Linked DNA regions of Homo sapiens. The protein of the gene in region 1 interacts with the protein of each later gene in a pairwise test. Each region holds a gene or a part of one and is shown on either strand. Other genes may lie near its edges. The genes, in order: TRIM74, TASOR2, PSMF1 and PHYH.

What was found.
Region 2: the proteins of TRIM74 (region 1) and TASOR2 interact in binary tests that used the Homo sapiens proteins (3 or more experiments, as listed by UniProt).
Region 3: the proteins of TRIM74 (region 1) and PSMF1 interact in binary tests that used the Homo sapiens proteins (3 or more experiments, as listed by UniProt).
Region 4: the proteins of TRIM74 (region 1) and PHYH interact in binary tests that used the Homo sapiens proteins (3 or more experiments, as listed by UniProt).

Annotation. Positions count from the first base shown.
Region 1 is NC_000007.14:72,959,441-72,966,466, forward strand, and holds the end of TRIM74 (tripartite motif-containing protein 74), read right to left. Parts: intron 6,736-7,026; 5' UTR 6,718-6,735; coding exon 6,319-6,717; intron 2,006-6,318; coding exon 1,910-2,005; intron 812-1,909; coding exon 581-811; intron 469-580; coding exon 442-468; 3' UTR 45-441; downstream 1-44.
Region 2 is NC_000010.11:5,687,815-5,694,840, forward strand, and holds part of TASOR2 (protein TASOR 2), read left to right. Parts: intron 1-4,983; exon of another isoform or gene 4,984-5,099; coding exon of another isoform or gene 5,100-5,104; intron 5,105-7,026.
Region 3 is NC_000020.11:1,121,581-1,128,606, reverse strand, and holds part of PSMF1 (proteasome inhibitor PI31 subunit), read right to left. Parts: intron 3,110-7,026; coding exon 2,957-3,109; intron 1,182-2,956; coding exon 1,099-1,181; intron 1-1,098. UniProt on the Homo sapiens protein: Plays an important role in control of proteasome function. Inhibits the hydrolysis of protein and peptide substrates by the 20S proteasome. Also inhibits the activation of the proteasome by the proteasome regulatory proteins PA700 and PA28.
Region 4 is NC_000010.11:13,283,065-13,290,090, forward strand, and holds part of PHYH (phytanoyl-CoA dioxygenase, peroxisomal isoform a precursor), read right to left. Parts: intron 5,478-7,026; coding exon 5,296-5,477; intron 776-5,295; coding exon 626-775; intron 1-625. UniProt on the Homo sapiens protein: Catalyzes the 2-hydroxylation of not only racemic phytanoyl-CoA and the isomers of 3-methylhexadecanoyl-CoA, but also a variety of other mono-branched 3-methylacyl-CoA esters (with a chain length of at least seven carbon atoms) and straight-chain acyl-CoA esters (with a chain length longer than four carbon atoms).

The DNA.
Region 1 (7,026 bases):
CTCAGCCTTATGAGTAGCAGGGACTATAGGCGCATGCCACCATGCCCAACTAATTTTTTTATTTTTGTATTTTTTGTAGAGACGGGGGTGTTACTACATTGGCCAGGCTGGTCTCGAACTCCCGGCCTCCAGCAATACTCCTGCCTTGGCCTCCCAAAGTACTGGGATTGCAGGCATGAGCTACCCTCCTCTAGTATTTCTGTAGCTTGAGTGAACTTCTGCTGTTCTAGGTACCCACAGTTCACCATCTGCCTCCCCACCTGTCTGCGAGACCCTTGAAGGCAGGGACGTGACTTTCCTCTATCTTCCCCAGGCTCAGTTATAGAGCCAGCTATAGGCAGCTGCTTGGGAGGCGCTGGTTAAGCTGAATGGAGGAACCAGTGGAGCTGAGATGCCCGTGCCCGCAGCCACCAGACCCTGGCTGAGCTCTCTCCAAGGTTATTACCTGGAGGCCATGGAGTGGAACTTCTGGAAGGCAAGAGAGAGGGAGGTTAAGGCTAGAAGGTGGGAAGCCAGGGCACTGTTGGGAAGGGGAAGGCCCTGGCGGGTATGGGGATGGGACGCCTCCCTGTCCACTCACCCAGATGAACTCATGGTGGTCCTCATTTCCGAACTGTTCCAGCACACACTCGGCTTGGGCCAGCCGCTCCCGGGTTCCCTGGGCCTGCTCCAGCTGCATGTCCAGGGAGGCCACCAGGCCACGGGTGTGACCCCCTATCCCCTCCAGGCAGCGGGCCTTCTCCTCGTCCACCGGGTGGCGCAGCTCCTGGAACTCGCGGCGGATCACCCAGCTGAAGACATCCGACTCATTCTGGGACAGGGAGGGCTGCTCACTGCAGAGTCACAGCCGAGCTGCCAGGCTCTGTCTGGCTGGCCTCGGTGTCCCCAGGGCCTTCCTGACCGGGTTGGTCCTGGGACCTGAGTCTCAGGGGAGGCTGCATGGCCTGGCGCCGGGCAGGGAGTTCACCCCATGCATGGGGAGCCCTGGCGGTGGCCGTGGGGAGGGTGGCCCCAGCTCCCATTTCAAATGGAGAGGCTCTGCTTTGGCCTGTTTTAATTTTTAATTTTTTTTTTAACAGACAGGGTCTCACTCTGTTGCCCAGGCTGGAGCGCAGTGGCACGATCATAGCTCACTGTAGCCTTGACCTCCCAGCCTCAAGCAATCCTCCCGCCTCAGCCTCCCGAGTTGCTGGGATTACAGATGCACGCCACCACACCCCACTTTGCCTATTTCAGCTATTAAATGTGCATATCCCAGAGTTCCACAACTGAAGGAAAGCAGGAAGGCCCTGGGCGAGCGGGCTTTGCTGTGAGGGAGCCAGAACTCCCTGCAGAACCCTGAGCTCCGCCTCCACCAGGCAGGGCTGATACCGCCTGCCGCGCAAGGGTGAGGAGGGTAAATGAGGGAGGCCAAGTGCTTCTGGATCTTGCTCGGCTCCTGTTTCTGTTTCACAGCCACCTCCAGGGCCGGGGCACTATGCGTCCCAGCCCCATGTGCCTCTCAGTTCAGGAGATCAGCCAGGGCCCAGGGCTGCCAGCCTCTCCACGCCTGCGCACCCAGGTACTGGGAGGGCACCATGACAGGCTGGCAAGGTCAAGCAGACACAGGTGGCACAGGGGCGGAGGAGTCACGCCCATGCTTTCAGCTGTTTACCCCCGAGACTCAAGTCCTGGGTTATCTCAGTCTCAAGGACACAGAGGGCAAAAGCCAACTTGGAGCCAGTCCTAACGACAACTGGGTTGAATTCCCCTGAGAGGATTTGCGCTTTCCCCACCCCGCCCCGGAATGCTTTGAGTTCTGGCTTTATATGGAAGGCATGGTTTTCTGTAAAGGACCAATGAGAACTGAGCTCTACAGGAAAGTGAAGGTGGCCGGTCCCAGGCAGGGGCAGAGGGAAGGGGCACTCACGACGATTCGGGTCCGGTTTTTCACCAGTTTGGCGATGAGCTCATCCACCTTCTTCTGCTCCTGCTTCAGCTCAGAGAAGAGGGCTGCGAGCTCCTCCTGGAGGCAACAGGCCATGGCCCCATGAGCAGCTGATCCCTCCCCTTCTCAGCTCCTTGGATCACCTTCTTGGGAGTATCCCAATGGCCACAAGCACTCCCAGGGAAACCAGGGCGGGAACCAGAGCCACCCAGGTACCCTTGAGTCCAAAACAGGTTAAATTGTTCAAGAATAGTCTGGGCGCAGTAGCTCACGCCTGTAATTCCAGCACTTTGGGAGACTGAGGTGGGACTTCACTTGAGGTCAGGAGTTTGAGACTAGCCTGGCCAACATGGTGAAACCCCATTTCTATTGAAAATACAAAAATTAGCCAGGTGTGGTGGCACACACCTGTAGTCCCAGCTACTTGGGAGGCTGAGGCACGAGAATCGCTTGAACCTGGGAGATTGATGTTGCAGTGAGCTGAGATCATGCCATTGCACTCCAGCCTGGGTGTCACAGTGAGACTCTGTCTCAAAAAATAAAAATAAAAAATAAGATAATTCAAGAATATTCTAAGGGCCGGGCGCGGTGGCTCACGCCTGTAATCCCAGCACTTTGGGAGGCCGAGGCTGGCTGATCACGAGGTCAGGAGATCGAGACCATCCTGGCTAACACAGTGAAACCCTGTCTCTACTAAAAATACAAAAAAAATTAGCCGGGCATGGTGGCGGGCACCTGTAGTCCCAGCTACTCCGGAGGCTGAGTCAGGAGAATGGCATGAACTTGGGAGGAGGAGGTTGCAGTGAGCCGAGATTGCGCCACAGCACTCCAGCCTGGGCAACAGAGCAAGACTCCATCTCAAGAAAAAAAAAAAAGAATATTCTAGGCTGGGCACAGTGGCTCATGCCTGTAATCCCAGCACTTTAGGAGGCCAAGATGGGAGGATCACTTGAGGCTAGGAATTTGAGACCAGACTGGGCAACACAGTGAAATCCCATCTCTAATGTTTTTTTTTTCTTCAAAGAATATTCTGGGCCGGGCGCGGTGGCTCACGCCTGTAATCCCAACACTCTGGGAGGCTGAGGCGGGCGGATCACGAGGTCAGGAGATCGAAACCATCCTGGCTAACACAGTGAAACCCTGTCTCTACTAAAAATACAAAAAATTAGCCGGGCGTGGTAGCGGGCGCCTGTAGTCCCAGCTACTCGGGAGGCTGAGGCAGGAGAATGGCGTGAACCTGGGAGGCGGAGCTTGCAGTGAGCCGAGATCGCCCACTGCACTCCAGCCTGGGCGACAGAGCGAGACTCCGTCTCAAAAAAAAAAAAAAAAAAAGAGAATATTCTGCATTGACAGCAGGAACTTCCCAGGCATAAGAGGGTCTCGATGTCACCCCTGTGCATGACATGGAGACAGTCACTAAATGTTACAGCTACCAGAAGTCACCATGTGATGCTGGCACTTCCTGGATTGAATGCTGCCTGTAGGGGACCCATCAGGTGAACTCTGTGGTCACCAGCAGATCCAGAATTAGTGGGTATTTAATCAGGAGCCATCACAAAAAGGCCGGCGCCAGGTGAGGCTAATTCTAGGGCCAGTGGTGCTCACACGGGCCTGGGTTTAACCTGGTGAATCCCCACACCTATAAACACCTGAATCCATTCCTGGTGGGCTTGGACACAGCACGGATTTGCGACCTCCCCAAGCTGACATAAATGCACTTCTCCTGGACTGCCCGGGCCCCAAATCTGACCTAGCCTTGGGGGTGCCAACCAGGACTCCTGGACCACCATCTACTCCATGACTTGACCAGAGCCCCCGTCGGTTTATACCCATGCAATGTACAGAATTTTTGGCTTGGATCGTGCCCAAGCACCAGAGAGCTGCAAGGGGCTTTCAGGAAGGGAGTTGGGTAAAGAATCAAGCACTTGCTGGCATAAACGGACAGAGTCCTTGCTCTGGAGAATGAGGCATCAGAACATCTCACAGAGGCCTAAGAACAGCATTCCAATGTCACCCTCCCCAGGCAGACAGACGGGACTCATTCCTTCCCCGTGAGAAGAACTAAGTTATGCAAATCAATGCACCCATCAATCGAGCATCTCAAGATCTCAATAAACAGGAGGCAACGGGAACACCTTAAAGAGGGCAATAAAGGAGTGCAATTTAGTTGTATTCTGTGTTGCAACAGAGAAGAGCCTCGGGATCATCAAAACCCAAATCTGGCCGGGAACAGTGGCTCATGCCTGGAATCCCAGCACTTTGGGAGGCCGAGACGGGAGGATCACTTGAGGCCAGGAGTTTGAGTCCAGCCTGGACAAAATAGTGAGACCCTGTCTCTACCAAAAAAAAAAAAATTAAGCCCAAATCTAAAACAGGGACCCAAGCTGAGCTGCTGGATCCTAACTACAAAGGACAGACAATCTCCCAGCCTGTTCCCTCCCTCCTTCCCATCAACTAATAAAACATAAACTCGGCTTCCTCACCTGCAGTTGGCTTCCACCTTCCATACTCCCCTAAACCTGCTCTTGCCAAGATAATCAGTTCTTACTGCTACATTTAACACTTTTCAGTCCTCAGAGACATTTCACACACGTGATCTCCTCCTTCAGTCTGTCTCTCTGATTTCCGGGAGGCCACACTCAGCCGGTGTTCCTGCTCTGAGGATTCTTTCTATTCCTTTTTCAGGGCTCTCTCTCTCTCAATCCAGATTTTAAGCCTGGTACCCCTTGGGGTCATCATCAGTGTCTTCCCTTATCACTATGTAGACTCTCCTGGGTTGGTCTTCTCCACCAAAGGGGACTTCAGTGACCACCAAGAGGAAGGACCCTCCACACCTCTTGCCCTGAGCCCCACCGCTGTCCTGGTCTGCACACCCCTCAACCCGACTGCACATCCCCAGGCACCTCCCGCTCCACCTGCCCACGCCGGATCCTCCCCTGCGATCACTTCCTCTGTGCAAGGGGGAATTACAGAGCTGGAGTCAACCTCCCCATCCCTCACCCTCCTTGCCACACACAGTTGTCAGGGTTTTTTTCTGTTTGAAATTTGTCTTTGGTCTGCCCCAGGCCTTTGTCCCAGTTCCCACCAACTTAGGTCCTGGCACCTTCATCTCTCACTGTCCTTTTGCCTCACCCTCAAAGCTCCCCTCTGCCAGAGAGATCTGAGCATGTCATCACTGGCTTAAAACACTCCAGCCCCCGCCTTTCTCCCTCATCCTGTGAATAAACTCCAAATCCATTCCCGGGTCACACTGGCCTCTCCATGCCCCAGCCGCAGCTTACCTCGCTGGCCCTATCTCGCCCCCACCCATGCTCCCTCCAGCTTTATGCTGGGATTACAGGAGTGGCCACTGCGCCTGGCCAACCAGGCTAATTTTGAAACTTTTGTAGAGGCAGGGTCTCACTATGTTGCCCAGGCTGGTCTCAAACTCCTGGACTCAAGTGATCCACCCACCTCGGCCTCCCAAAGTGCTGTTATTATAGGCATAAGCCACCCAGTCACGTGTTTTATAACAGGTGTTTTATATATATAACACCCAGTCAGGTATTATTATTACTCATCTTAAAGAATGATCTGCTAGGTTTGGTGATGGCCTATAAAGGCAGGAATTCACTGATTCAGCATTTTGGACATTTACAATGTGCCAGGCATGGCTCCAGGCACTGAAATACACCAGGGGACAAAATGAAGTCCCCACTCTCATGCACCAGAGAGTGCAAACAGGGGAGTGTCCAGACACAAACAAGGGGCGTAGGGCAGTGGTGCATGCCTATAATTCCAGCACTTTGGGAGGCCCAGGCAGGAAGATCGTTGGAGGCCAAGGAATTCAACACCAGCCTGGGCAACATAACCAGACCCCATTTCTACAAAATATAAAAAATGAGCTGGGCATGGTGGTGTGCACCTGTAGTCCCAGCTGCTCGGGAGGCTGAGGTGGGTGGATTGCTTGAGCCTAGGAGTTGGAGGCTGCAGTGAGCCATGATCACACCACTGCACTCCAGCCTGGGCAACAGAGTGAGACGCTGTCTCCAAAAAGAAAGAAGAAAAAGAAAGGGGGGGCGGGCGAGGGAGGGGGAGAGAGAGAGAGAGGAAGGGAAGGGGGCGGGAGAGAGAGAAAGAAAAAAAGAAAAAGAAACAAACCAGAACTGCAAACAAAAAACAGGAAGGGGTGAGCACGTGACACCAGGGAGCTCCCATCCTGTGCGTGTAGCTTCAATCCCCAGCACCTGGGTTTAGCTGCCGCTCAAACACTAAGGAATGAATGCGCCAGGGCAGGGCTGCAGGGAAATCGAGGATAGCTGGATCCGTTTTGGTGCCAGTTGATAGCGCCAGAGAGCACAGGATCCAGTCCCCGCGGGCCCCGCCGCCCCGCCTGCACCCTCACTCCCCACCTTCATGCGGCTGCAGACGGTGGAGACGGGCGTGACCGGGTGGTGTTGGTGGGAGCCCAGCAGACCGCAGAGGCCACAGATGAGCTCCTGGTCCTTCTCGCAGAAAAGGCTGAGCGGGTTCCGGTGGTGCACGCAGACCTTGGGCTCCGGGTCCCCAGGGAGCCTCAGGGCTTCGATCACCCAGGCCAGGGAGACGTTGGGCAAGGAGCTGCTGCCGTCCACCACCTGCCAGCACATGGGGCAGCGCACCTTGGTGTCCAGGTGGTAGGACAGGGAAACCAGGCAGCCCTTGCAGTAGGAGTGGCCGCACTGTAGCATTAGGGACTCCTTGAAGACCTCCAGGCAGATGGGACACTGAAGCCAGTCCTCCAGCTCCAGCAGGCTCACCTGCCAAGCCATCCACACTCACTGCCCGGGCTGAAACACAGGCATCCGACCTCAGTCCTGTCCACTCCCCTCCCCCTGTCCAGCACTCACCCACCACCCTCAACCCTAAGGAGCACCAGAATTTTATAAGAAACACTTTGAGTCCTGGATCCCAGTCCTAACCCACATGACCTTGGGCCTCAGTTTCCACAGCTGTAAAACAAAAGACTGCAGTGAAAAAACTGGTCCCTTGAAGATACGTGTGTGTGTGTGTGTGTGTGTGTGTGTGTGTGTGTCTACATTTTTTACTCAAATTTGGAGACAAGCATGAAAGGGGCCATC
Region 2 (7,026 bases), on another chromosome or scaffold:
CTCAAAAGACTGCTGAAGATCCCAAAGATCTTTTGTTTATTGGATTATATCAATTGATAATTACCGTATTAGATATTAAAACTGATAAATTTGAAATGTATGTTTATTTATTGGTACCTTTAAATATAATAACCCATTACATCTTAACATATTTTATCTCCCCAAAATTAGTGACAAGAATGGGATTTTTGTACATTTTTGCAAATACGCTGAAGGTCTCCTTTAATGACTAGAGTCTCATCTGCTTTTGTATTCATTGTGTTGCCATGTATTATTTTGGTTGAAGTGCATGAAGAAAATCCAGCGTCATTCAGCTGAGTAGTTAGAAAAGAGATGAATATTTTAATAATCTTTTCAGATGATTATGTTCTTTTTTGATACTCATCAAAACCTAACAGTTTTGTGTTTTTGTTTCTGTTTTGTTTTTTAGGACAGTGTCTTGCTCTGTCGCCCAGGCTAGAGTGCAGTGATGTGATCATAGCTCACTACAGCCTCCAACTCCTGGGTTCAAACAATCCTGCCTCAGCCTCCTGAGTAACTAGGGCTACAGGCACACACCACCAGGCCCAGCTAATTTTTAATTTTTTTTTTTTTTTTTTTTTTTTTGTAGAGACAGTATTGCTATGTTGCCCAAGCTAGTCTCGAACTGCTGGCCTCTAGCAGTCCCCCTGCCTCGCCTCTCAAAGCACTGGGACTATAACATCCAGCCCCTAACAATTTGTTAAACGTTAGCTGCAGTGTAGAATTGCAAATCATATGAATGAACTTCTCATGCTCTGACATTAACATTGGCCTACCATGCACTTTCAAGGGCTCTTTTACCTACACATGTGTCATTTGGAAAACATTGGTTCACTGAATTGTGCAGCTCTTTCACATGACACATTTCATTATATAATTTCAGAAAATTGGTTGGGTGCGTGGGCTCATGCGTGTGATGCTAGCACTTTGGGAAGTTGAGCTGGGAGGATTGCTTCAGCCAGGTTTGAGACCAGCCTGGGCAACATAGTGAGACCCCATCTTTACAAAAAAAAAAAAATTAGTGGAGCGTGGTAGCACACACCTGTGTTCCCAGCTACTTGGGAGGCTGAGGTGGGAGGATTGCTTGAGCCCAGAAGGTTGATATTGCAGTGAGCCATCATCATGCCACTGCACACCTTCCTGGGTGACAGAGCAAGACCCTGTCTCCTTTAAAAAGTACAGTTTTTGGAATGGCTTTTATTGAAGATCTATTGATGATGAACACTCAGTTTTTGTTCACCTGAAAATGTCTTTATTTTGCAGCCATTCTTGAATGATGTTTTTGCTGAATACAAAAGTTGGCAATTGTTTTCTTTTAACATGCTGAAGCTCTTATTCCTCTGTCTTTTGGCTTTCATTATTGCTATTGAAAAGTCACCTATCAGTCTATCAATTCATTTTGTTCTGACTGTTTTTTGTGGGTTCTTTTGTTGTTTGTTTTGATCTTTAGCTTTTTGCTGCTTTGCTGTTAACTTGTATGTATTGGCCGGGTGCGGTGGCTCACGCCTGTAATCCCAGCACTTTGGGTGGCCGAGGTGGGCGGATCAAGAGGTCAGGAGTTCAAGACCAGCCTGACCAATATGGTGAAACTCTGTCTCTACTAAAAATACAAAAATTATCCCGGCATGGGGGTGCGCGCCTGTAGTCCCAGCTACTCGGGAGGCTGAGGCAGAAGAATTGCTTGAACTCGGGAGGCAGAGGTTGCAGTGAGCAGAGATCACGCCACTGCACTCCAGCCTGGGCGACAGAGCAAGACTCCATCTCAAAAAAACAAAAAAACAAGCATGTATGTATCTTGCTTGGGATTGTCTTCTTAAATCTGTAAATTGGAGATGTTTTTAAATGTGTTTATTCATAATTTATTAAATGTGATTTCCATTCGTGTTATTTATCTTAATGTATAAATAATTTTTTAAATTATCTACATAGTAAATATTCTCTTCTGGTCTTTTACTCTTCTTTCACTTTGTTTCCCACAGCTTCCCCAACAGACATACATTGCCAAACTTGTGGATTTTTGATAATTTTTGATAAGTTAAAAGTAAAACAGGAAATCTCTGGAACTAGTCTTTTGGAAGAGGGGGTAGAGTTTTTGACTACTCTTTTCATTTTCTTCATCATTATTGGTTTATTTAAATGTTTCTTCCATTTAGACCAATGTTGGTAAATTATATTTTTATAGTTTTCAGATTTATTGATATAAATTATACATGGTGATTTATAATTTTAGAAATATCTTCCTTGTATTTGTGGTTGTATCGTCTTTGCTTTCAATATTTAATTTTTTCCTTTTTACTTATTTATATTTGCTAAAAGATTACCTACTTTATTATTACTCTACAAATAACCAGCTTTTGCTTTTATTGCTTGGCTTAGTTGGCTTTTTTAATTTGCTTTTTAAAATTACTGTTTTTATCATAAGAAATGTATCTGGAGTGTACTTTGTTTTCTCTTAGTAAGATTTTAATTACATTTAATCGGAGAACTAAATCCCTTGCTAATATTTTGTATAAAGATTCACTACCCTCCTTGGCATGGTGAAATAGACCCTGTTTAGAACCTTTCATGTACACCTGCTCCCTCATTAGGAGAAGGAATATTCAAGATCCCAATGCCTGAGGTTTGTCCAGTTGGGGCACCTACTTTACCCTTGTGCATATCCCCTATTTATCTGTGCCCAGGACATTTTGCGTGGGCTACGTGTAGAGGTGGTGGCCATACATAGTTATCTTTATTCTGGCATAAATCAGATGTCACGTTCTCTTTTGCCATATGTAATAATCAAGAGTACCCAAAAGTGGGTCTTGAAATATAATTGTTTCTGAGAGGAACTTATTCTCAGGATATTTTTGTAAGAGGGACAAAACTACTTAACAGTGTGTATCCTTGCAATAAGTATATTAATGAATACGATACAACCATTTTATACAGGCAAAAGATGGTTTAATGCCAAAGCACAAACTCATAAACCCAGTTGATGAGGAGCCAGAACAATGGTCATTACTGTATAGAGATGTTTTAAAAAGTCACCATATAAGCTTTGAAATAATTCTAATGAAAATTATATGACCTTGAGGCTGGGCGCGGTGGCTCATGCCTGTAATCCCAGCACTTTGGGAGGCCGAGGTGGGTGGATCACAAGGTCAGGAGATCGAGACCATCCTGGCCAACATGGTGAAACCCTGTCACTACTAAAATACAAAAAATTAGCCGGGCATGATGGTGCATGCCTGTAGTCCCAGCTTCTTGGGAGGCTGAGGTGGGGGAATCGCTTGAACCTGGGAGGCAGAGATTGCAGCGAGCCGAGATCACGCCACTGCACTCCAGCCTGACGACAGAGTGAGACTCCGTCTCAAAAAAAAAAAAAAAGAAAGTTATATGATCTTGAATATAAAAAGTATGGTCTCTAAAGAATTTGTTGTTGTTTTTACATAATGTAGGAGGAAAAAAATTGTGGTGTTTATAAGCATCAGCCTGATTACCAAAAATACTTTTTGTGGTAGACTGGATTTTGAGAATGTTAAAACAATCTTCAAAAATTGAATATTAAATCCAAAAATAAGCAAGCCACAGCTAAATGAAAAAGTCATAGTACATAGGTGTAATACACTTTACTCAAGGGGTGTAATTCCAAAAAAAAAGTTTTTAAAAAAGGTAATTTGTCTCCTACTGGATATACTAAATACCTTAGTGAATTTTTTATTTTGAATAGCTCTTTGTTAATCTACATAATTGTTTATGAATTTAACTTGCTTTATAAGTTCAAATTATCCTATATGCTATACAACACACTAATGGTAATGATGAATAAGATCTACTAATTAGGCTTTCTTCTGGGCAATGCATGTGGGTATCTTAGATTGCTTAGTTAAAACATAATGAGTAAAGATGTCCTTAGATCAGGCCAAACACTTCATCTTCCCCCTGCACCTCCGTTTGATTAAATTTTTCGTAAATTTTGTTAGGGCTGCATGGCTTATTGGGAAGGGACCTCATCCCTACCCCAGGCATTGGTATCAATTTTCCTGAAGCTATGTGAAGTATTAAAAAACCATATTCAGGCCTGGCATGTTGGCTCACGCCTGTAATCTGAGCATTTAGAGAGACAGAGGCGGGCTGATCAGTTGAGGTCAGGAGTTTGAGACCAGCCAGGTTAACACGGTGAAACGCCTTTACTAAAAATACAAAAATTAGCTAGGCGTGGCGGCCCATACCTGTAATTCCAGCTACTCAGAAGGCTGAGGCAGGGGAATCGCTTGAAACCAGGAGGCAGAGGTTGCAGTGAGCCCAGATTGTGCCACTGCACTCTGTCTCAAAAAAAAAAAAAAAGCCATATTCATTATGACTTTTTAATTTTGTGACATGTATAAATACATTTTTTATTATCTACATAGTAAATTTAAAAAGCTGCATCAAACTGTAGCCGGTGAGGCTGCATAAATGATGTGGGACGAAGAGTTATAATAACTTGAGATCACTGTAGTGAAAAGAACGTGTATTTTAGATTAGACCTGAGATTGATAGATATCCTTACTAGGGGCTTGCGGGTAGGACACTTAAGGAAATTGGAGCTTGGAGTGAGCTTTGTAAAATAATACTAAAACCATCCTCCTAGTGGGGTTACTGTGTGACGTCCAAGAACTCGGGGGCAGTTGGCTTGCTGTCCTGTGCTCCGTTCTGACGACTGAGCCCGCCCAGGTCTGCAGGGTCCTGGGGTCCTGCGGGTTCTGTAGGGTTCCCTGGTGTGTGGAGTCCCTACCCGCTACAAGCTCCGTTGGGTCTACGGAGTGTGCGGGGATCTCCCAGCCCTGTTGGCTGTACGGGCTCAGTGGGGTTTGCAGGGATCCCCTCGTTCTGTGGGGTCCGTGGGCGCCGAGTCAGGGCCATGCCCCTGGGCTCCGCTCGCGGAGCCGGCGTCGCCCTTGTTGACTTTCAAAAGGCGCCGCCGGCCCCGCGCCCTACACGCTCAGCACGCCCTGCGCGGAGTTCCCCGCTCTGGCGCACTGGCCTTGGCTGGCGGGAGGGGGCCGGAGGGGCTGCCGGCGGAGCAGAGACACAGCCACCCTCCCCAACACACCATGAGGTGAGTCGGGGAGGGGCCTAGGTCTCCCACATGCTGTTGTGGGAAGCTCTGACCCCCGCTGTGCCTGGGGCGGGCTCACCCACGGAGGTGACTGTTAATACAGCGCTGAGTGCGAAGGAGACCCGAGAAAATGGGCCTATTCTGTCTAGTAACGTTTTACCTTCTGGTGAGGGTGTGGGGAGAGAAGCTTTGGCAGGGTCAGTGAGGCCCCGCAGCAGAGCCCTGGTGATGAAAGACACTTTTGTATGGTACCCGAAGGCTTAACTTCACTCCTGATTGTGAGTGGATTGTGTGTGGTAGTGGTGGAGCCCTTGCAGAACCGCCAGAGAGACGGTGCTAGTTGTGTGTGTGCCTATGTAAACCTACAATAGCTAAGGTCATCTTTTGAAATGTAGAACAGGGATTGCACATTGACTTTGCGCTTCAAGTATTTGCAGGTTATTACCTTAGTTTTTACTCCCTTTGTGCGTGCCGTGATTATCTTGGTTTAAACTCGTATGTGGCAAGAAATTTTTTAATGAATGTTTAAGTTTCTGTGAAAATTGTGTATTTCTCAAATTGTATTTTTTGGCTTTTAATAGGGTCACTTTGTTTTCTGGGTCTCTGTTTTGACTTACGGGAAATGCTATTTGTTTTCTCTACATTTTCTTCATTTAAAAAAAACCTGTAACTTCAGGAGTTCAAGACCAACCTGGGCAACCTCATCCCTGGAGGAGGGGGGAACCCCCACAAAACCACAACTATAACTGGCTGCTACTTAGGACTACAGGAGATCTTTTTTCCAAAGTGGAAATAGCTTTATTTCACCCAGATTATGTTTATTTAAAATTTCAGATAATATATAAAGCTGTAAAAAGTAAAGCAAAAACTACCTGTACTTGTCCCATCCAAAGATAACTTCATAGAATATTTGATTATCTACTGTGGTGCTAGGAGCTCTGTTGGACCCTGGGGACTTTGGTGAACAGACAATGCCTGCCTCTATAAACCTTACATTCTGCTGGGGAAAATAGACCTCTCCCAACCCACCAAAAAGTAAATTTATAATAATTCCATGTTCTAATGCTTTAAAGAAAACACTTGCAGCAGGGTAATCCGAGGTTTATCTGAGTGGATGACTTAAATAGATGTCACTAAAGGAACAGAAAGAGCTCAACCATGGGAGGAATGGGGAGAAAAAAAAAAGAATTCTGGTCAGAAATAACAGCATGCACAAAGGCCTTAAAAGAGGAAAAAGCTATAAAAAGAAAAATCCATGTAGCTGCCACTCAGTAGTAAGTCAGGGAAAAGTAGAGCAAGATGAGGTATAGGAAATTGGCAGGGACCAAATTTTACTTGTCCATGGCCAGGAGGGTGTGTTTTGTGTTCTGAGGGCAGTGAGAGGGTACTGAGGGGCTTTAATTAGAAATAAAGTGATCTGGAAAACTAATTGATTAATTTGTTAAGTAAATATTTATTGAAACCCTACTGTATAACAGGCACTGTTCTGAGCACTGGCATACAACAATGAAAAGGACAAAGCCCTGTATTCATGAAACTAATCTAGTGGTTGGAGGACAATCAGATAAACAAGAAAAAATACCAGATATTGATAAGTGTGCAGAAGATGACCATTGTTTAAATTGTGGTTTATATTCTTTAAGATATGGTATATTACACATATACTTCTTTTGGAACTTTCTCCTGAATAATTTATGGTAGGACATTTTTCACTGTTACTAAATAGTTTTCTTTGGGGGCATCTTAATTTGTTTTTGGATTAAGTATGGTAAAAAATAGCATGCATAAATGAAGAAATACTGTGCAGCAACAAAAATTTGCATGTTACAAAGCATCTGGTGAACGTTATATAGTAACTTCCTTTTGACAGTCTGACATGTGGCTCTCCTACCCCCATCCCAGACCCCAGCTGCCCCTTTGTG
Region 3 (7,026 bases), on another chromosome or scaffold:
AAGCACTAATCTAAGTACCTTTGGAACACACTACTCTGCCTACATCTTTTGTGGAACATAGTTAAAAGACAAAAAGAACTGGAAATAAGTCATTTGGAACTTTACTTAATAGGTTTGTTCTTGGTAGGCACTGATGTAGCAATTCAGAAAATATTTGTGTGTATTCTAGGATCAAATAAATAAGTAAATACATTGATGCTGCTGGGAATCAGGGTTCTCACCACAGGAGAAGGGAGATATAAGTATGGAATAAGAGAAAAAGAATCCTGTAGTGTTATATTAAAAACAGAGGTGGCAATTTAAACTTATAAGGAAAAATTTTCCTAGCTCTATCTGCTGAAAAGGTCTAGAATCATACTACTGTATGATACCAACTATGTGACACTCTAGAAAAGGCAAAACTATGGAGACAGTCAAAAGATCAGTGGTTGCCAGCAGTTAGGGAAAAGGGAGTGAAGAATAGGAGAAGCACAGATTTTTAGGGTAGTCAAACTATTCTGTGTGATACTATGATAGACACACATTCTCATCTGTTTGTCAAAACCCACAGACTGCACAACAGCAAGCTTGAGCCCTAATAATGATGTGTCAATGTAGACTCATTAGTTGTAACAAATGAATCATTATGTATGGGATATTGACACAGGGAAGCTGTAAACTGTGGGTGTATGGGAGCAGGAGGTAATATGGGAATGCTCTGCACTTTCTGCTCAATTTTGCTTGTACCTAAAACGACCCTAAAGAAAATAATTTTTTTTTAAATAAGTTGGAGATTGGGGTTGGGGACCCAATGAGGCACACATCCTCCCAGGAGTCTGCTCTGACTGAATGAGTTGCCCGGGCTCCACCTCTACTCTGCAGCCACCACTGCACTTGTGGACTCTTGACTGCACCATCTTGTTTCATGTGGCATTTCCTATGGAAGTCTCCTCTTCAAATACATAAAAAACAGAAAAGAAAATTAGGAAGTTGTGCCCAGAAATAAAAGGTTCTTCCATTCACCTTCCTTAATTTTCTGGACACATCCACCCTATTCCTCATATCTTGCCATTAGTTCTCTCTTCTTTTTCCCAGGGAAGAGACATCATTTAGAAGTACCTGTGGAAGTCACCCAGGTGTTCTGCATCGATATAATCATCCAAGTTCAGGGTCAAGTCTGCCACTTGCTGTGAGCCATATTCCTAGATGGGTGAAAATAGAAAGTGAGAGACTGGGATATTTCTGGCTAAGAGTGGGAGGGTGAAGGGAGAGTAACAAAGTCTTCAACCTAAAGAAATATTCACATATGTCCACAGAGACATATATAAGGACTGTTTATATGAAATACCTTCCTAAGGCTTGGAGACTTCTCTGATTTAGGAATATTGCCTTTCCAAGGCAGAGACTAAAACACCTACTTCCCAGGCTCTTTTGCAAAAGGGCTCAGGCATGGTAATTGAGGTGTTGAACTGATGCATCAACTTTGATCTGCAGGTGAGCAACACGGAGATGCAGACCCAGCAAGGGGCAGACATCTTGCTAATGAGGGTAGCACAGAGGCCAGGGGGTCACATCAGCAGCTTAAGAGAAGGGTGCACCAGGGCAGACAGAATCAGCCAGTATCTAATACTGGGCAGTGGTGGTGGCAGCAGTGGTTTCCGGGGCATGATTTGGGACACTGCTTCTGGAAACCTAGCCTTAAACCTGTTTCAATGAGCTATCCTGGTTCTTTTTGTTTTGTTTTGTTTTGAGACAGAGGCTTGCTCTATTGCCCAGGCTGGAGTTCAGTGGCACGATCTCAGCTCACAGCAAACTCTGCCTCTTGGGTTCAAGGGATGCTCCTGCCTCAGCCTCCCAAGTAGCTGGGATTACAGGCACCCACGACCACGCCCGGCTAAGGTTTAAAAATATTTTTAGTAGAGACAGGGTTTCACCATATTGACCAGGCTGGTCTCAAACTCCTGACCTCAAGTGATCCACCTGCCTTAGCCTCCCAAAGTGCTGGGATTACAGGTGCGAGCCACTGCGCCTGGGTGATCCTGGTTCTTTTAATAAACCCTTTTTGCTTAAACTAACCCAAGAGGTTTTTGTTGTTTGAAACCAAGAACCCTATCTGACACGAGATCTAAATGTTCATCAAAAGGGAAAGGAATAAAGAAATTATGGTGCTATGAGAAACTATATAATAGTTAAAACAAATAAGGTATATCTATATGTATTTCCATGTCAAGGTCTTGCCTCCAAAACACCGAGTGAAAAAAAAGCAAAGTGCAGTATAATACATACAGCAGGATACTTCTACATGGTCACACCCAAACCACTAAGAAAAAAGTTAACAAAAGGAAAGTCACTGTCCTTGTGGCACTTATAGTCCCATGGCAGAATAAAAGCAAAGCACAAATAAGTACACAATTACAAGCTGCAATGAGTGTCAGGCAGGAAAATAAAATGATGGCGTAAAGAGACATAATTTAGATTTTTTTGGGGAGTAGGACTGGGTAGTCAGAACTGAAATTTTTGAGGAAGTCAAAAATGAAAGAGAATTGTCCAGGATGAAGGAATGGTGAAGGGCTGTGTGAGTGGCAGATGGGGGAGGGGAAGAGCCTTCCAGCATAGGAAATGTAAAGTGCAAGGGCTCCAAGGCAGCAAAGAATTCAATTTATTTAAGGAACTGAAGTAGCCCATTGGGGTTACCTAAGTTTTTCCCTTCTATCTTGTCACTGAATAGATTTACCTTATTTAACCATTCCCCTGTTGACAGAAAGCCCCTCCTTCTTAATTCCAGGTGGTGGATACCTTTGTGCACGAAGGTTTTCTATACTTAGGGTTCTCACCTTAAGATAAAGTTCCAGAAGTGGGATCACTAGGTAAGGGCTACATGAACATTGAAGCTCTGGATTCGTACCGTTAAATGGGTTTCAAAACAGCCATTCCTATCCCCATCTCATCAGCAGACTCACGTGTCCCAGAGACTCACCAGCACATTGAGGATCATGCTGCTCTCCACGGTGATGGCTTTCACAAGGAGCTTTCTGGACCCATCCTTATACTCATACCGGAGGACATACAGGTCTTTATTGTTGTTCCACCCAGCTGGCAGCAGTTCTGACTTCTTATCATTGGGACCCGGCTGGGAAGACCACAGTTGAGAGGAGAAAGATCATGAACTCAAAACACAGAACTATAAAGAACCTCACGAGATAAGCTAATCTTACCCACCTCACTTCACAGATGAAGATGTGGAGGTCAAGAGAAATGACTTGCCCAAGATCCTACAGCGAGAGAGAGGTCTAGGGCCCAGGTCTCTGGGCTTCTGTTCTACTGCGCTCTCCCTCATATTGAGCTACCTTTCTGACACAGCACTGGAACCTGTCAAGAATCTGCAGTGTTGGTTTAATAATTATCTCTTCCCCATCCCACTGCTAAGAATAAAGCCAGTCATCTTGAGGAACACTGCGAAGTTCTAAGTAGTGTTTTTCAAAGTTTGGACGTTAGGCTAACTTCAATAGGATTACCAAGGTGTTGACTAAAAACACAGATCCGAATACACGCTAACTGACTGCAGTGATGTACAAAAATTATAATTTCATAATACACAAAATGTAGCACATGTACAAATAACAAAGAATTATAAAATGTCTCTACCACCAGCTTAAGAAATAGAACATCAGCAATACTGCTAAAGCCTTGGGTAGCATACTCCAATAAATGTCCCTCCTTCCCCTTCAAGGGTAATCACCACTCTTAAACAATTTCTTTACTTTTCCTTAGAGTTATATTACTATACATGCAACCATAAAAATATAGCTTCAAATGTTTTTGAATTTTAAATACACAGCATCACTTCCGTCATTTGCCTTTTTTATTTGATAGTTTTTGGAAATGTATCCATGTCAATGCATTTAACTACAGCTGATTCACATTCACAGCTACACAGCATTCTGTATGACTATGCTGCAATTTATACATCTACTTGTTGATGGTGATTTGGAGTATTTCCAGCTTATTTGTTTTGCTATTATAAACAATGCTGCTATGAACATTCTTGTACACATCTGGTACACGTGGATAAATTTCTATACAGTATGCATGGAGGAAAAGCTTTTAATTTATAAGATAAAGTCAAGTTGTTTTCTAAAGAGTTACTGATTTATACTCCCACTAGCAATGTATGAAAGCTCCTGTTGCTCCGTGTAGTTGGCAACATTGCTATTATTGCTTGCCAATCTAGTAGGGGTAAAATGCTTGCCATTTTCATGCTTGTCAGCCTGGTGGGTGTAAAATACATCTTTTATTGTGAGTTGTGATGTCTTCCTCTTTTCTTTTTTAAAAATCCTAAGACTTTCCATACTAAAGTTTGAGAAATAGTTCTCAAATTATTTCTACAGGAAAAATAATATAGTGATTTCTAGGTGGGGAAGATTTCTTAAACAAGATCCATAAAAGAAAATGCTGCCTTTGACACTGTTCATAATTGAAAGCTTCTGTTCTACAGAGACACTACTAAATTAATAAGGAGCCACAGGCTAGGAAGAGACATTTGCCATGGCTGCAAAGGAAAGAAATTAATAACCTCTACATAAAGGGAATGCCTGGAAAATGAACAATAACAATTGGGAACTCCAAAAAGTGGCAAAAGATATGAACAAGAAAAAGAGCGGCTAATAGTGTCTAAAGAGTTATTCAATTTTACTAGCAATCAGAGAAGCAGAACTGAAATAATGAGACACTAAGTTACATGATTCGGACTGTTATTACCCAGTTTTCTATTTTTTGCCAGATGTCTGTGTAGGTGTGGGGAGAATGGGAACCTCCAGTCCCTGCTGGTGGGCATTTAAACTTGCACAGCCCCTTCGGGGAGCAATCTGACAGTTTTTAGTGCAATTAGATGAGCCAATATCCTATGATCCAAAATCCCTACTCCCAGAAGAAACCCTGTGCACAGGGTACATAACAAAGGATCTTCATTATAGCCTTGGCTAAGGTAGCAAAAGTGGAGATAAAATGCAAAATATGCTTATAGTGGAATACTATATAGCAGTCAGAAGGAATAAACCAGATCTAATGATAGTATTATATATAAAAGAAAAAATATGATTTAAAGAAAAGTTCCCCAAAAAATGAGGTTTACACTCCAGTACCACTTATGTAAAAATTTTAAAAAGCACAAAAAAATGCTATAATCTTTTTTCATGGATGTATATTTATATTGCTCACCATGGGGCAGGTGGACTGGGAAGATCTGTAGTCATGAGAATACAGCGGGAGGGAGTGGGACCGGAGATGAAGAAAATGGAAAAGACAAAGGTCCAGCAAAGCAAAACTTCACACACCAAGGACAAGGGGAGACCACACATTGAGAATTGCTGGCCTCTCCTGTTTCGTCACCCCTGGTGCTCAGAAATCCTCTGGGGAAAGAGATCCCAAATAAAATTCAGGATGTCGCAACTGTCATGGTTTAAAACCTGGCTGGATGACAATGAAATTCATAGGCCTGAAGCATAGAAATGAGAGTGAGGAAAAACAAAAGTAAAACTAATCAAACCATTCTTCTGCGAAAAAGAAACTATCCCCTCACCCCAAACTGGGTAAATTTCCCGAATATGTTTAGTGTTTAGTGTCGTGGATTTGTTTACTTTGGAAGCCAGGAATTTGATGACATCCTCATCTTTGCTCTGGCAAACGCCTTTAAATTTATATTATATCCTCCATGTACAGCATTCAATCCACCAGAGTTCTCTCTTGGAATATAAACAATTTGGTCTGCTCACCACCCCATCACCTTTGGCTTCCAGAGTTACAGAAAATCCCTGAAGTCAGGTGAAACTGATATCTCTAACTGCAGTGCAATTGATGTTCCCCAGTAAACAGAGGACAGACCCTGGCGATATCAGGCCAAACATGGTCTGCAACTGCCCTGTAAACCCTGACATCAAATATCAAGAGTCCCAGAAAGCCACAGTTGGAAAGTAGCCTAAGTACACAGTCACGTGGTTTAACTTCCTCTGATGAAAAATCAAAGGCCTGAGGCTGAGCGCGGTGGCTCTTGCCTGTAATCCCAGCCCTTTGGGAGGCAGAGGCAGGCAGATCACTTGCATTCAGGAGTTCGAGACCAGCCTGGCAAACATGGTGAAACCCTGTCTCTACTAAAAATACAAAAAAAATTAGCCAGGCATGGTGGCGGGGACCTGTAATCCCAGCTACTGAGGATGCTGGGGCAGAATTGCCTGAACCCAGGAGGCAGAGGTTACAGTGAGCCAAGATAGCACCACTGCACTCTAGCCTGAGTGACAGAGTGAGACATCTCGGATTAAAAAAAAAAAAAAAAAAAAGAAAAGAAAAAGAAAAAGAAAAGAAAACTCTAAGGCCTGAGATGGTCAGAGAGCTGCCCAAGGTCTCAGCAAGTCAGGTGTAGGGCTGTGCTTGGAATTCAGAGCTCCTGATTGCCCAGGCTATGGCTAGAGAAGGTTTTTCCCAGCCAGGTCCACAAGACTGGCCCTAAGAGAATAAAGATAATTGTCTTCTTAGGCAAAATCCTGGCACTGGAAGCATTCTTTAATGGCCATGAATTTGCCCCAATGCCTCTGAACTAAAATTCACCCAAAGAAACTTAAACAGATCATTTTGGGCATTTTCTCTCTTTCATCATAATCCTTAGATTTCCCACAACAGAAAACAAAATTCTCTAACTTATGTCGATAACCACCTAAGTCATCCCTTACCTATCCCCTTGGCACCCAAACCACTTGACAAAGCTGTAAAGTTCTTGTGAGGAGTGGTTCTGACTTCAAGAAAGAAATCCAAATTCAAGTATTGGATTTTTGTTGAAGCCAGTGGCTGCACTGGTTTTCTAATCAAGTTTTATGTACACAATTCCCCTGTAACAGAGGAAGCAAAACCTAAGAGAAAGCAGACAATCTAGCTTTCCATTTAACTGTCAACTTGTATAGTCAAGCATACACTCTTGGGACCTTCCTCTCCTTCTTATCACCCCCAGAAGGGTGGAAACAGCAGATGGCTGGAGAGGCAACACAAATATCCTCTGAG
Region 4 (7,026 bases), on another chromosome or scaffold:
CCCGCCTCAGCCTCCGGAAGTGCTGGAATTACAGGCATGAGCCACTGCACCTGGCTTTCATAATCAATTTTTTTTTTTTTTTTTGAGACGGAGTCTCGCTGTCGCCCAGGCTGGAGTGCAGTGGCGCGATCTCGGCTCACTGCAGACTCCACCCCCTGGGGTTCACGCCATTCTCCTGCCTCAGCCTCCCGAGTAGCTGGGACTACAGGCGCCCGCCACCTCGCCCAGCTAATTTTTTGTATTTTTAGTAGAGATGGGGTTTCACTGTGTTAGCCAGGATAGTCTCGATCTCCTGACCTCGTGATCCACCCGCCTTGGCCTCCCAAAGTGCTGGGATTATAGGCATGAGCCACCGCGCCCGGCCCATAATCAATATTGACAAGGTTAGGATCCTGAGGTCACCTGGCTTCTTACTGATAAGAGCACAGAAAGCCCAAGGTAAGCAAATATATTTCCTGGTAAATAAACTGGACTAAAGTCCAGGTTGGTTAAAAGCCACAAATCTTTAAAATGTTAATGCAATTTAATTAAAATTTTATTCAATTAATTTGAATTCAATGAATTGAATACAATTTTTGTTTCTAACCCACACTTCTGCAGCAGGTGCAGCAATGTGAATGCTTACCTTCCGGAATCCCTGGGTTTTATTCTGACCAGATCCGTGGATGAGCAAAGGATGGAAGAAAACAGTGTCGCCCTTCTCCATCACCAGGTGCACCCGGGCCTTGTTTTCCTCGTAGTCCTGGATCCCGTGGAACATTTTGTTAACTCCCCCCTAGAACAAGAGGCAAGTGAAGTCTACATTTGAGGGAGTACCATAATTAAAAACATTGTCAATGGTTCATCAGGGAAAGCAAACATCAGGGAAAGAAAGCATTTCTCTCTCCCAAGAGAAATAAATGTCTAAATTAAATGCTTACATTTTTTTCAGTATACAAAAGCCTCTCAGATATCTGGTTTTTAAGAGTCACATTTTGGCCGGGCATGGTGGTTCATGCCTGTAATCCCATCTCTTTGGGAGGCCAAGTTGGGAGAATTGCTTATGCTCAGGAGTTTGAGATCAGCCTGGGCAACATGGCAAAACCCCATCTCTACAAAAACTGCAAAAATTAGCTGGGCGTGGTGGTGCCAGCCTGTGGTCCCAGCTACTCAGGAGGCTGAGGTGGGAGGATCGATTGAGCCGGGAGGGGGAGGTTCCAGTGAGCCATGATCACACCACTGCCCTCCAGCCTGGACAACAGAGCAAGACTCTGTCTCGAAAAATAATGGTAATAAAAAAAAAGAAGTCACATGTTGATATTAAAATCACTGATTTTTTGGAGGAAATGAACAGTGTGGAATTTCCACCTGCCCTTCATGACTGCATTATACATGAAGATCTAGCTTAGCTTTGCCTTTTGTGGTTAATGCAGGCAACCACCTATCTCTTGGGCATTTCCAGCCTGAAACTGTGAGTGTTCCCAGTGTGTTCTCCTCCTCGCCCAGAACTTTAAATAAATCCTTCATCTCTTACTCAGGAGTGTCTCTGAGAAGCTATTTCCCCAAAATAGGGGGGAGAAAATGCTCAATTTTTCTGAGCTCAAAGGCACTTATGTTACATCCAGAATAATGAAAGAATAGTAAATTAAAACACTGTGTTTGTTTGTAACTATTTCCCAAATTAGTTGCTACTTTAGGTAATGCGGTTATGTCTTTATTAAAGAAATTGACATGAGAAGCACCTTAGGAGTCAGGGTAAGGGAAGCAGCCCATTCCTCTTCCTAAGAGCATCCCCAGTTCCTTCTGGGAATGACGACATCCCTCTTAGACAGTGCTGAGACTCTGACCCAGAGCCCTTCTCTCCTGGCCAGGGTGAATGTGTGACCCACACTAAGCTAATCATACCTCCCACTCTGCATCTGAGCAGGGTATCTGAGACTCCACACGCTCTGGAAGCCCTGCAAACTTTTCCCTTTGCCTTCTGTCAGCCAAAGCCCACTGCAGTTGCATGCACCAAACTTTAAACCTTGGCTTCACTGATGAGTTTCACATTAAATGGTTTTATATCAGGATCCAGACACTCACATATTTTCATTTGACACTAATTATTGGTGCAAGAAATCTGAGACGTTCTATTATTATTATTATTGTTATTACTGAGATGGAGTCTTGCTCTGTCGCCCAGGCTGGAGTGCAGTGGTGCGATCTCAGCTCACTGCAACCTCCATCTCCCAGGTTCAGGCAATTCTCCTACCTCAGCCTCCCGAATAGCTGGGAGTACAGGCACACACCACCATGCCTGGCTAATTTTTGTATTTTTAGTAGAAATAGGGCTTCACTATCTTGGCCATGCTGGTCTCAAACTCCTGACCTCAAGTGATCCACCCGCCACGGCCTCCCAAAGTGTTAAGATTATAGGCGTGAGCCACTGTGTCCAGACGAGTTAGGAGTTCCTAAAACCATGTTCCTCATTTCCTATCGAACTACAACTCATTCTCCCTGCTTTAACAATGGGGGCTCTTTCCATTCGCAGCATCATGGGATTCCAGGATCTTTTCTTTTCTTTTTTTTTTTTTTTTGAGATGGAGTCTTGCTTTGTTGCCCAGGCTGGAATGCAGTGGCGCGATCTCAGCTCACTGCAAACTCCACCTCCTGGGTTCAAGCTATTCTCCTGCCTCAGCCTCCTGAGTAGCTGGGACTACAGGCGCACGCCACCACACCAGGCTGATTTTGTATTTTTAGTAGAGACAGGGTTGCTCCATGTTGGTCAGGCTGGTCTCGAACTCCTGACCTCAAGTGATCCGCCCACCTCAGCCTCCCTAAGTGCTAGGATTACAGGCATGAGCCACTGCGCCCAGCCCAGGATCTTTTCTTTTTCTTTTGATACGGGAACTTGCTCTGTCACCCAGGCTGGAGTGCAGTGGCACCAACATAGCCCACTGCAGCCTCGAATTCCTGGGCTCAAGTAATCCTCCTGCCTCAGCCTCTGGAATAGCTGGGACTACATGCATGCGCCACCATGCCCAGCTAATTATTATTATTATTATTTTTAGAAATGAGACCTCACCGTGTTGCCCAGGCTGGTCCTGAACTCCTGGGCTCAAGCGATCCTCCCACTTTGGCTCCCACAGGGTCTTTTCACCTTAGACCTAACGCGTTAATAGTCATCTCTCTGGTTTCTTTGCTTCTAGATGCCTATACCTCTAACGCGTCCTGCACCAGAACGTGACATTACTGTCCTTGAAGAGCCGATTTGATCCCATCACTCATGAGCTCAAATGCATTTAACATTTCCAAGCATCAGCAGCTGAATGGATGAACAAACCATGGTTCACGGTGCAGCCATGCAATGGAATACTACTCAGCAAGGGAAGGGAAAGAACTACTGTTGGCCAGGCGCGGTGAGCCCAGCACTTTGGGAGGCCGAGGCAGGCAGATCACGAAGTCAGGAGATCGAGACCATCCTGGCCAACATAGTGAAAACTCGTCTCTACTAAAAATATAAAAATTAGCTGAGCATGGTGGCTTGTGCCTGTAGTCCCAGCTACTCGGGAGGCTGAGGCAGGAAAATTGCTGGAACAAGGGAGTCGGAGGTTGCAGTGAGCCAAGATCGTGCCACTGCACTCCAGCCTGGTGACAGAGTGAGACTCTGTCTCAAAAAAAAAAAAAAAAACAACAAAAAACTACTATCATACACAACAGCATCAATGAACCTCAAAATCACTACACTGAGTGAAGGAAGCCAGAACGGGACAAAAAAATCTATACTATGTGATTACATGTCTATGACATTTTAGAAAATGCAAACTAACCTGCAGTAACAGAAAGCAGCTCAGTGGTTGCCTAGAGCAGGGAGAAGGATGGAGTATCTTGATTGTGGTGATGATTTCACAGGTATGTGTGTGTGGAAAATGATCAAATTATACATGCAAAATATGTACAATTTACATGACAATTATACCTCAATGAAACTGTTTATTTGTTTAATTGTTTGTTTTTTAATTAAAAGCTCTTCAGCCAGGTGTGGTGGCTCACGCCTGTAATCCTAGCACTTTGGGAGGCAGAGGTGGGCGGATCACGAGTTAAAGAGATCAGGACCATCCTGGCCAACATAGTGAAATCCCGTCTCTACTAAAAATACAAAAATTAGCTGGGTGTGGTGGTGCGCGCCTATAATCCCAGCTACTCGGGAGTCTGAGGCAGGAGAATCACCTGAACCCAGGAGGCAGAGGTTGCAGTGAGCCGAGAACGTGCCATTACACTCTAGCCTGGTGACAGAGTGAGACTCCTCAAAAACAAAACAAAACAAAACACAACAAAAAAACAAAAAGGGTCTTCGATCTTCCTAAAAGTTTGAACTAAAAAGTTCCCATTCTTCCCCCAAATAAACTGCAGACTTGTTAGTAAAACAGTCTTTTCTAATCTGGTCCTAATGTACATTTTTGGGCTCACCTCCTCTGCTGCTCCCCAAAATACACCCCCAGCGCCCAGCCCATCTAGACTGCAAGCTCCCTGGGTCTTTCCTGTTCTTTGGTCAAGTTCAGGCTTGCCCTTGACCTTGTGCCTTCCTATATCGACTCTTCCCTATGGGACATTGTACACTGTCCTGCAAGGCTCAGGTCAGACACCAGCCTCCCCAGATCCTTTGCTGGTCTCTGCAGTTGCAAGGAGACAATCTCTCCTTCCTTACTCTGAGAGCCATCAGTTAGTGAGTAAGACTGACTTGGTGTCTACCACACACATCTGGGGTCGAAGGGTTTATGTCTTACCTCTGCAGCTAGGACTTACAATCTCGGATCCTATACAGTACCTACCCAAGCTCCCCACCTTGGCTGGCTTTCAAACACGTGTTAAGGGCAGGTACAGTGGCTCATGCCTTTAATCCCAGCACTTAGGGAGGCCGAGGTGAACAGATCACCTGAGGTCAGGAGTTCAAGACCAGCCTGGCCAACATGGCAAAACCCTGTCTTTACTAAAACCACAAAAATTAGCCGGGCGTGGTGGTGCACACCCGTAGTCCCAGCTACTAGGGCGACTGAGGCGGGAGGATGGCTTGAACCTGGGAGTTGGAGGTTGCAGTGAGTTGAGCAAGACCCTGTCTCAAAAACAAACAAACAAAAAAAGTGTTGAAAATAGGTGTGATGAATGTTTTCTCTGACATCCTTGAACTTTCTCTGATCCTCACTGCAAATCTTAGGACAATGTTTTGCTCAGAAAGGAAATGCCATCTCATTTGTAAACTCTTTAGAGGTACTGATGTGAAACAGAAACTGCGAAGGAGATTCGGATCAAGACTCAGCCGCCGGGCAGACCTACCTCCCACTTGGGGTAATCGTGGGGCTTCAGGGAGCCCTTGTGTGTGCCTGGGAGCACAACCAGACAGCCGTTGTTCCGGCTGATGTGCTCCATCGCCGTCCAGGCGCAAACGATGAGATCGCTGGGCCTGAAGGGGAAATAGTGCAGGTCCTGGTGCAGGGGGTGACGGGACGTCTTCTTGCCTGAAAAGAAAACCTGCTACTAAAGGATACTCGAGGCCGAGTGCAGTGGCTCACGCCTGTAACCCCAGCACTTTGGGATATAAAAATATATCCCAAAGTGGGAGGCTGAGGCAGATGGATGGCTTGAGCCTGGGAGTTCAAAACCATCCCGGGAAACACAGTGAGACTCCGTTTCTACAGAAAACAAAACAACAAAACAAAACAAAACAACAAAAACAACTAGCCGGGTGTGGTGGCATGCACCTGTAGTCACAGCTACTTGGGAGGCTGAGGTGGGAGGATCACCTGAGCCTGGAGGTCGAGGCTGCAGTGAGCTATGATTGCACTGCTGCATTACAGCCTGGGTGACAGAGAGCGAGTCCCTGTCCCCCACCCCCAACCAAAAAAAAAAAAAAAAAAAAAAAAAAGCTGGTCTCAGAATTCTTATCCTTTGCCTGAAAAAACAATGACCTGTCCCCAGAAGAACCAAACAAATGAAATAATGCTAGAGAAAATCAGCCCCGGAGAGATAAACACCAAATTGGAAATCAACACACTGGCTCCACATCTTCAAATCCCGCACTCCCTTCTTCCGGGTTGCTGGTAGCTAAGTACTTATGCACACTATTTTCCAGCAAGCGGTATAACATCCTCATCTCTGTTGTGCTTTATTCTTTGTTGTTATTGTTTTTTGAGACGGAGTCTTGTTCTGCTGCCCAGGCTGGAGTGCAGTGACGCGATCTCGGCTCACTGCAAGCTCCGCCTCCCAGGTTCACGCCATTCTCCTGCCTCAGCCTCCCGAGTAGCTGGGACTACAGGCGCCCGCCACCACGCCCGGCTAATTTTTTGTATTTTTAGTAGAGACGGGGTTTCACTGTGTTAGCCAGGATGGTCTTGATCTCCTGACCTCGTGATCCGCCCGCCTCGGCCTCCCAAAGTGCTGGGATTCCAGGCGTGAGCCACCACGCCCGGCCTTGTGCTTTATTCTTTTGTGACCCTGGATTGGGCACAGTACCTAGCATGCAGTAATGCATGTTCAAAAACCAGTTGCATTAATTACATTGAAGAGAGTGATATGGAGTCAAGTTTGAAATCCCCTTTGAAGTGGCTGATGTCAAAAAAAGTTCTAAGCCACGTGTAGTGGCTCACACCTGTAATCCCAGCACCTTGGGAGGCTGAGGCAGGCAGCTCTCTTGAGGTCAGGAATTTGAGACCAGCCTGGCCAACATGATGAAACCTCGTCTCTACAAAAATACAAAAATTAACTGGGCATGGTGGTGCACACCAGTACTCCCAGCTACTTGGAAGGCTGAGGGCTGAGGCAGGAGAATCGCTTGAACCCAGGAGGCAGCAGGTTGCAGTGAGTCAAGATCGCACCACTGCACTCCAGCCTAGGCGACAGAGTGAGACTCTGTCTCAAAAAAAAAAAAAAAAGAAAAGAAAAAGAAAAAAAAACACACAAAACAGGACGGGCACGGTGGCTCACGCCGGTAATCCCAGCACTTTGGGAGGCTGAGCCGGGTAGATTGCCTGAGGTCAGGAGTTCGAGACCAGCCTGACCAACATGGTG